Homo sapiens: one gene and its partner. The protein of the gene in region 1 interacts with the protein of each later gene in a pairwise test. Each region holds a gene or a part of one and is shown on either strand. Other genes may lie near its edges. The genes, in order: LYRM1 and MTAP.

Region 1 (3,828 bases):
CCACATGTGACTATTTAAATAAAAATTCAGTTCCTCCAACACAGTATGTTTCAAGTGCCAGTAGCTACCTGTGACAGGTGTGTGTCCTATTGGACAGAGCAGATAGAACCTTTCCTTCACAGAAAGTTATCTTGGTCAGCATTGGACTGGAGGAACTCGAGGGTACTATGTAGGCTAGTCATTCTCCGCATGTGAAACTCAAGGGACTTAGCCTACTGAGGAGCTCTGGTGCCTCTGCAGATGGGAAAGTTGCGCATTCAGTAGTTATTTGATGGTGGAGGAAGCTGTCCTGAAGGCCTGGACCCCTGCACAGAATGTGGTTATTTATCAGAGAGTTGGATCAAGGGTCAGGTGCTAGAAAGCCCCAACTGTATCTAGTGTGGCATGCAAAGCTCTTTGGTCAGTTTCCTAATCCAGTTCCTCAGAAAACTATAACAAAGCAAGAACTTAAGTCAGTGTCTTGTGTTCTCAGACTTTTCGATTTGATATGAAGGGTGAAAGATCCTGGCTGGGGAGTTATGAATGAATGAATGAATGAATGAATGAATGATCTTTAGCATTGGCCTTCAATTCCAGCCCCCCCACCACATCTCTTCCACTGCCTTCTACTACTAGTAACTGGTGACTGCTTTTTCACCACCTCTGACTGACCCGTACCTTTTCTTTGCCTGTTAAAATATGCTAATAAGGAAACATACTTCCATTTCTTTTGAATTGAGGGGCCCATAACTTTTCATTTAGAACTTCTATCCCTGATGGGAAAAATAGCTGTATATCTATTGGTTGTTATCTTGGTTACAGTAGCCTGATTGGAGTTCCCCTGTACAAATATAATCTTGTGTGCGCTCCGGTGCTGGTATGATATATTTAGAATGGGTGTGCTTGCCTCCTGTGATCTTGTTTGGGATAGACATTTTAGAAGTCTTTCAGACATTTTTTGTTTTGGCCCCGTGTTCTAAAAACTTCCCATATTACAGGGCCTAAACTAAATTATTTTCCCTTAGGTAAAATAAAAATGCCATCCACCCTCTCCTCCCTGCCCCCTATTGCTGACAGACCATATTCTTATCATTTTCTGTGTAAAAAGATGCTGTTTCATAAAATAGCTGCGGTATGATTAAGTATACCACACAAGCATATCCTGAAATTTGCAAAACAGTGTGTGGCATGTGAGGCATTACACTTCCCTTTTTGGATTCTAGTAACCAAAAACTGAATCTGAAACAGGAAATAAGTCTGTGGTTGTGTGTGTGTGTGTGTGTGTGTGTGTGTGTGTGTTTAATTGATAGGAGGATATGGGACCAGAAATGTATGGAGAACAATTTCACTTAAAGGTTATTGGATTGGGGTAAGAATATGGGTGTACACCAAAAAGGAGGGAGTATAACAGATCTAAGAGAAAAGTGCCCTGAGGGATAAACAAGGAGTAAGAGATAAAGGAAGAAAAATAGGAAGGGAAGCCTGGTCATGCCTTTGGTGTTGGCACCTGCATTATATTTCCAGTAAGAAGTATGCGCTGTGGTCTGAAGATAAGCGGTGCTTCCAACAGGGTTATTTACTCATACCAAAGAACAATAGTCCTTTGCTGTACAGGGATTATTAATGATCAGAGGGAAACAGCTTTAGGAAAATCCATTACTACCACAAAGCAATAAATTCACCAACAGGCCACACATTTCTCTCCTATTCAGACAAAGCTTAGCATAGATAAAAGAGACCTCGTTGTTCTTCCTCTGTTTCCTCCTATTCAGGTAACATTTGCCTTTGTTAACTCTCAGTGCTAAGTGATGTTACATGGATTATTTCATGAATAATCCTTACGACTCTGAAAGGGGTTCTGCTATTACCCCATTGTACATTCTAAGAAACCAAGTCTCAGGCAGTTAATAATTTGCCCAATGGGGTAAAGTCAAGATTCAAACCCAGCCTTGTCCGCCCAGAGCCCAAAATAAATGTTCATTTATTTTGTATTATATCTGCTATTCCTTACAAATGGGACAGACATTCCCTACTCTGCTATACAGGGCAAGAACATCTGGTTGCTCTGACATTAGCAAGAGCATTTCAATTCTGTAGAGGTTTTCCAAATGATAGTTTTAAGTCACAGTTTTCTAGATTGATTTTAACCCATGATCATTGAGTATAGTGGACCTTATTCCCCAAAAGGATTTTTTCAGGAAAAAAGTATCAGAACCCCATTCTTCTATGTTTGGTTCTAAACTTCATGGAAATATTATAAGGTATTTCAGTCCAGTGGACAAACCCTAACCAGCCTTAAGAAAACTTAAGAGTGAGGGTTACATCATAGCTGTGTCTCTTACGCTGTTCTGGATGAAACTGATGAGGATTCCTCCCCAAGTAACACTGAGTCTCCAGTTCTTTATCCTGACACACACTGCTCTTGAAAGCATCCTAGTAAGGGTTAATTAGTATTTAACCCTTCAATGCTCTGGGATCATCAGTTGGGAAGCTTGTCCAGATACCATCGTGTGTATCTCAGGATGAGAACATACGTTATCAATGACCATTCTGTGTGTGTAAATTTATTCTTCTAATACATATTTGTCATGTTCCAACTATGTGCCAGCCTAGGCATGTAATGTACAAGACAGTCCCAAATCTCCCCCTGCTCTCCCCACCTCCTACTCCCTGCAACACACACATGGTGGAAAAAGAAAGGTAAGTCATGCAAAATTATGATAGAGTAGGATGAACATTATGACAGGGGTATGCCAGAGGTGCCAGGAGTGCACATAGCCGGGACACTGACCCAGCCCCAGTGTGAAAAGGGCACCCGTCCAGAAGTGATGGAAGTCAAAAGGTGGAAGCAGCAAATAGGCAAAGAAAGGGTATTTCAGTTGTATGAAGTAGAGAGGCTTCCTATGGCAAAAAGAGGGACATTGCACATACAGAAGACCATGATCTCATTTGGGTGGAGTTTATGATTCCCCCTCCTTGCTAAAAAATCATAAAGTACTTGGGAGAGAAATTTGACTATACTACGGTCATGAGTTCTGATGAGGGAAAAAATTCCACCTAGGGGTAGGTCTTTCCTGAAATAAATGGAAAGGGGTGTTTAACTTCCTGGGGCTTGAAAATCAGGGTAAATTCCTCTTGCCTTTGTCCCATTTCTTATTTGTACTGCAACACATTTTCTTTAGAAGGCAAAGCCTCATGAGAGTCCAGCATTTGGAATTTGGACATTCCTGAGACCAGAGTCATACTTCTATAAATCTCAGCTGGGGAAAGGGAATTTTCATCTCTGCTCTTAAATTCCTAAGTGTTCATGCTGCAATGGTCTTTCCAAAGGCAGAGGAACTGTTCCAGAGGTGGGGTAAAAGGGCACAGTGGATGAGGCCCCTCATACCAGCAGATCTTTCCATAGTCCTCCTGTAGAAACACCAAGTGTCTGGGTATGCCTTGTACAGTAAGTTCTTGGAACCTCCCCAGACCCTCTCACTGCACTTTGGACAGTGAGTGGCAGAGTGGGTGGGTGTTTGGTGTTTGGTTTTTGTTTTTGTTTTTTAGACTGATCGCTGCCCATTATGAGTCCCCATTACTGACTCCAAAATAGAAAAGCTTGTGGTCAGTCAGGAAAATGATCATCCAGCTTTTTTGGCTCTTGACCCTGACTCCTGTCAACTAATTAGGGGCATTAGGCAAGATCTTGTTTCACCATCTGTACAAGTGTTGGAATTATAAGTAGTTATGATATACAGTAGTTTGATATACAGTGTATTTAAAAAGATATAAATCAGACCGTGTTACTCCAGCTTGCATAAAATCTACCAGTGTCTTTTGCGCTTAAGACCAGAAACAAAGTGCCTT
Region 2 (3,301 bases), on another chromosome or scaffold:
CAAGATGCATTTATAGCTGCAAAATATTTTCAGGTATCAAATGTAACCTGCTGTTCCAGCCTTTTTCAATCTTTTTGGTTAACAAATTCTGTATATAAACAACTCAGGCTGTCGTCATCTTTTTTTTTTTGAAGTTTATTTTTATCTTAAAAATATATGTTTGTAAATGTGTCAAAATTAACCAAGCCCTGACACCTGACAAGACTTACAAGAAAGGAAAATCACAGACCAATCTGTCTCATGAGCATAGATGCAAAAATCAAACAAAATATTTGCAAACCGAATCCAGCATTATATAAAGGGGATAACATATCATGACTAAGTATGGTTTATATCAGGAATGCAAGATCAGTTTAACATTAAAGAATCTACATTAACAAAATAAAAGAGAAAAGTCAAGATTCTCTCAACAGATGCAGGAAAAAGTACTTGGTGAAATTCAACATGCATTCATGACACTCTTGGCAAAATAGGAATAAAAGGGATCTTCAATCTGATAAAAACATGAAACGGAAAAAACCTATAGCTAACATATTTTAATAGTGAAAAACTAGACGCTATCCTCTGCTGTTGAGAATAAGACAAGAGTAACAACTCACACACCGCTTCTATTCAACATTAGGTTGAAGGTCCTAGCCATTACGACAAAGCAAGAAGAAACAAAAGGTAAACTGTTGTTATTCATATATGACATGATTGTGTACACAAGGTATCCCTAAGGCACTTGCAATAAAATAAAAATAAGAACTACTACTGAACTAAGTGAATTTAATAAGATTACAGAATATAAAGTCAATATACAAAAATAAAACATATTTCTGTATACCAGCAATAAACTTAAAAATGAAATTAAAGTACTATTTACAGTAACATTTCCACAAAATATTTAGGAATACATTTAACAAAAGATATATACAAGACTTCTTCACTAAAACTACAAAATATTGCTGAGATAAATTTTAAAAGGCCCAAATAAATGCAGAAACATACCATGTCCATCGATTGAAAGGTTCAATATTGTCAATTCTTCCCAAATCGACCTAAAAATTCAGTGCCATTCCAGCAGATTTTTTCTTAAAGAAAAATGGAGAAGCTTAATATAAACTTTATAAAGAAAGGACCTATAGCCAAAACAATCTTGGAAAAGATTGCAAAGCTTAACAATACTTAATTTCAAGACACCATAAAGCCACAATAATCAAGACAGTGGGGTACTGGCATAAGAAGAGACACATAGATAAATGACATAAATAGATCATCCAGATTCACAGATAAACAGTAAATTTTGACAAGGGCACACAGGTAATTAAATGAGTAGGCAAGGTAATTAAGTGAGTAGTCAAAATTAAATGATTTTGACAAGGGCACACAGGTAATTAAATGAGTAGGCAAAGATTTCTTGGAACACACAAAAAGCACCAACCATAAAAAAAATTGATAAACTAGGCTTCGTCAAAATGAAAAACTTGTTCTTTGAAAGACATAATTAAGAAAATGAAAAGGCAAGCTAAAGACTAAGAATAGTCACAACACACATATCTGAAAAAGAGTGTATCCAGAATATATAAACAATTCTTACTATTCAATAATAAAACAAAACAATCTAATTTTTTAATAAACAAAAATATTTGTACAGATAGTTCACGAAATATGTGAATGGCCAATAAGCACATGAAAAGAAGTTCAACATCTTTAATCAGAAAAATGCAAATCAAAACCACGAGATATCAAAATATACCCAATAGAATGGCTAAAATTAAAAACGCTGACAATACCAAGCTTTGTCAAGAATTCTTACAAATTACTGGTGGGAGTATAGGCATTTGCACAAGTGAAAATATGTTCACAAAAAGACTTGTAATTTCATGCTTATAGCAGCTTTATTCATAAAATTCCTCAAATGGAAAAAATTCAAACATTCATCAACAGGTGAATAGATAATCAAATTGTAAGATAGGCATATGACAGAATACTACTAGGCAATAAAAAAGGCACAAGCTACAGATGCATGCAACATGAGTGAATCTTCAAAACAAAGAAATAATGCATGCCGAGATTGTCTTTCTGAAGAAATTCCCCTCATTCTTTGGGATCCCGAGGTTCTCAAAGGCATAGCTGGCAACAGGCCCTGAAACAGCTTCTTCTGGACTACCCTACTAGTCTTGGTAGATTTCCTCGATCTTTGGCATTCCTTCTTTTCTTCCATGGTCTTCATTTACTGCTGTCCTTCTTGCCTATCTTGAATTATTCTATACTATTATGAGGAGAACACAGGTTCTTCCATCCTGGAACTTCAGTTCTTTGCCTTGCTGGGCCAATATATACATTGAGCCAGATTGTGTGCACACTGGTAGTTCCAAGGTGCAACAATCTTCAAAACATTTGAGGAGTGTATTAGTCCATTCTCATGCTGCTGTAAAGGACTGCCCATGACTGGGTAATTTATAAAGGAAAGAGGTTTAATTAACTCACAGTTCCACATAGCTGGGAAGGCCTCAGGAAACTTACAATCGTGGCAGAAGGGGAAACAAACACGTCCTTCTTCACATGATGGCAGGAAGAAGTGTTGAGCAAAAGGGGGAAAAGCCCCTTATAAAACAAACAGGACTTGTGAGAACTCAGTATCATGAGAACAGCAGTGTGGGGGTAACCACCCCCATGATTTAATTACCTCCCACTGGGTCCCTCCCACAACATGTGGGGATTATGGGAACTACAATTCAACATGAGATTTGGGTGGGGACACCGCCAAACCTTATCAAGGAGGGACTCTGCAAATGTGGCAAGAACTCCTCATTTCGTGACTTCCTAACCCATCAGATACTCCTTGAAACCTTATCAAATTGTTTCACTGGATAAGTGCTGGCTAAATGCTTGTTGAGAAAATTAAAAACATGTTCAGGCCACTGTCACAAGAATGAATAATTATTTGGAAAATAGGTGTTGGTGGGGCCACAACCATGCCCTGAGGTAGCAGCCAGAGAAGAGGCTCCAGGAGCATCCTGTGGATGCCAGAGCAGGCTCACGTGGCACCTGCAGGGCAGCTGGCTCAGGGCAGGTTGGAGGTCACCTTAGTCACTCCCTCTTCAAGGAAGTTCACTGTCCTCCACTCCTGAGGGTGCCACCGTACCAGAGTTTCCTTCCTTGAAACAAGCCATGGTAGCTACCTCCAGCCCTGCACAGCAACTCGTGCTAGCGAAGGGGGCAGTGAACAGGGGCCAGGTCACAAGGACCATGACCCTCGGGGACCACAGGGCCAGGATGTCATTCTCAAAACCATGAAAATCCATGCCAAATATAA

Evidence for each region.
Region 2: the proteins of LYRM1 (region 1) and MTAP interact in a two-hybrid assay, tested with the Homo sapiens proteins (one large-scale study listed by BioGRID and IntAct).

What each region holds. Positions count from the first base shown.
Region 1 is NC_000016.10:20,903,449-20,907,276, forward strand, and holds part of LYRM1 (LYR motif-containing protein 1), read left to right. Parts: intron 1-3,828. UniProt on the Homo sapiens protein: May promote cell proliferation and inhibition of apoptosis of preadipocytes.
Region 2 is NC_000009.12:21,864,532-21,867,832, reverse strand, and holds the end of MTAP (S-methyl-5'-thioadenosine phosphorylase), read right to left. Parts: 3' UTR 752-3,301; downstream 1-751. UniProt on the Homo sapiens protein: Catalyzes the reversible phosphorylation of S-methyl-5'-thioadenosine (MTA) to adenine and 5-methylthioribose-1-phosphate. Involved in the breakdown of MTA, a major by-product of polyamine biosynthesis.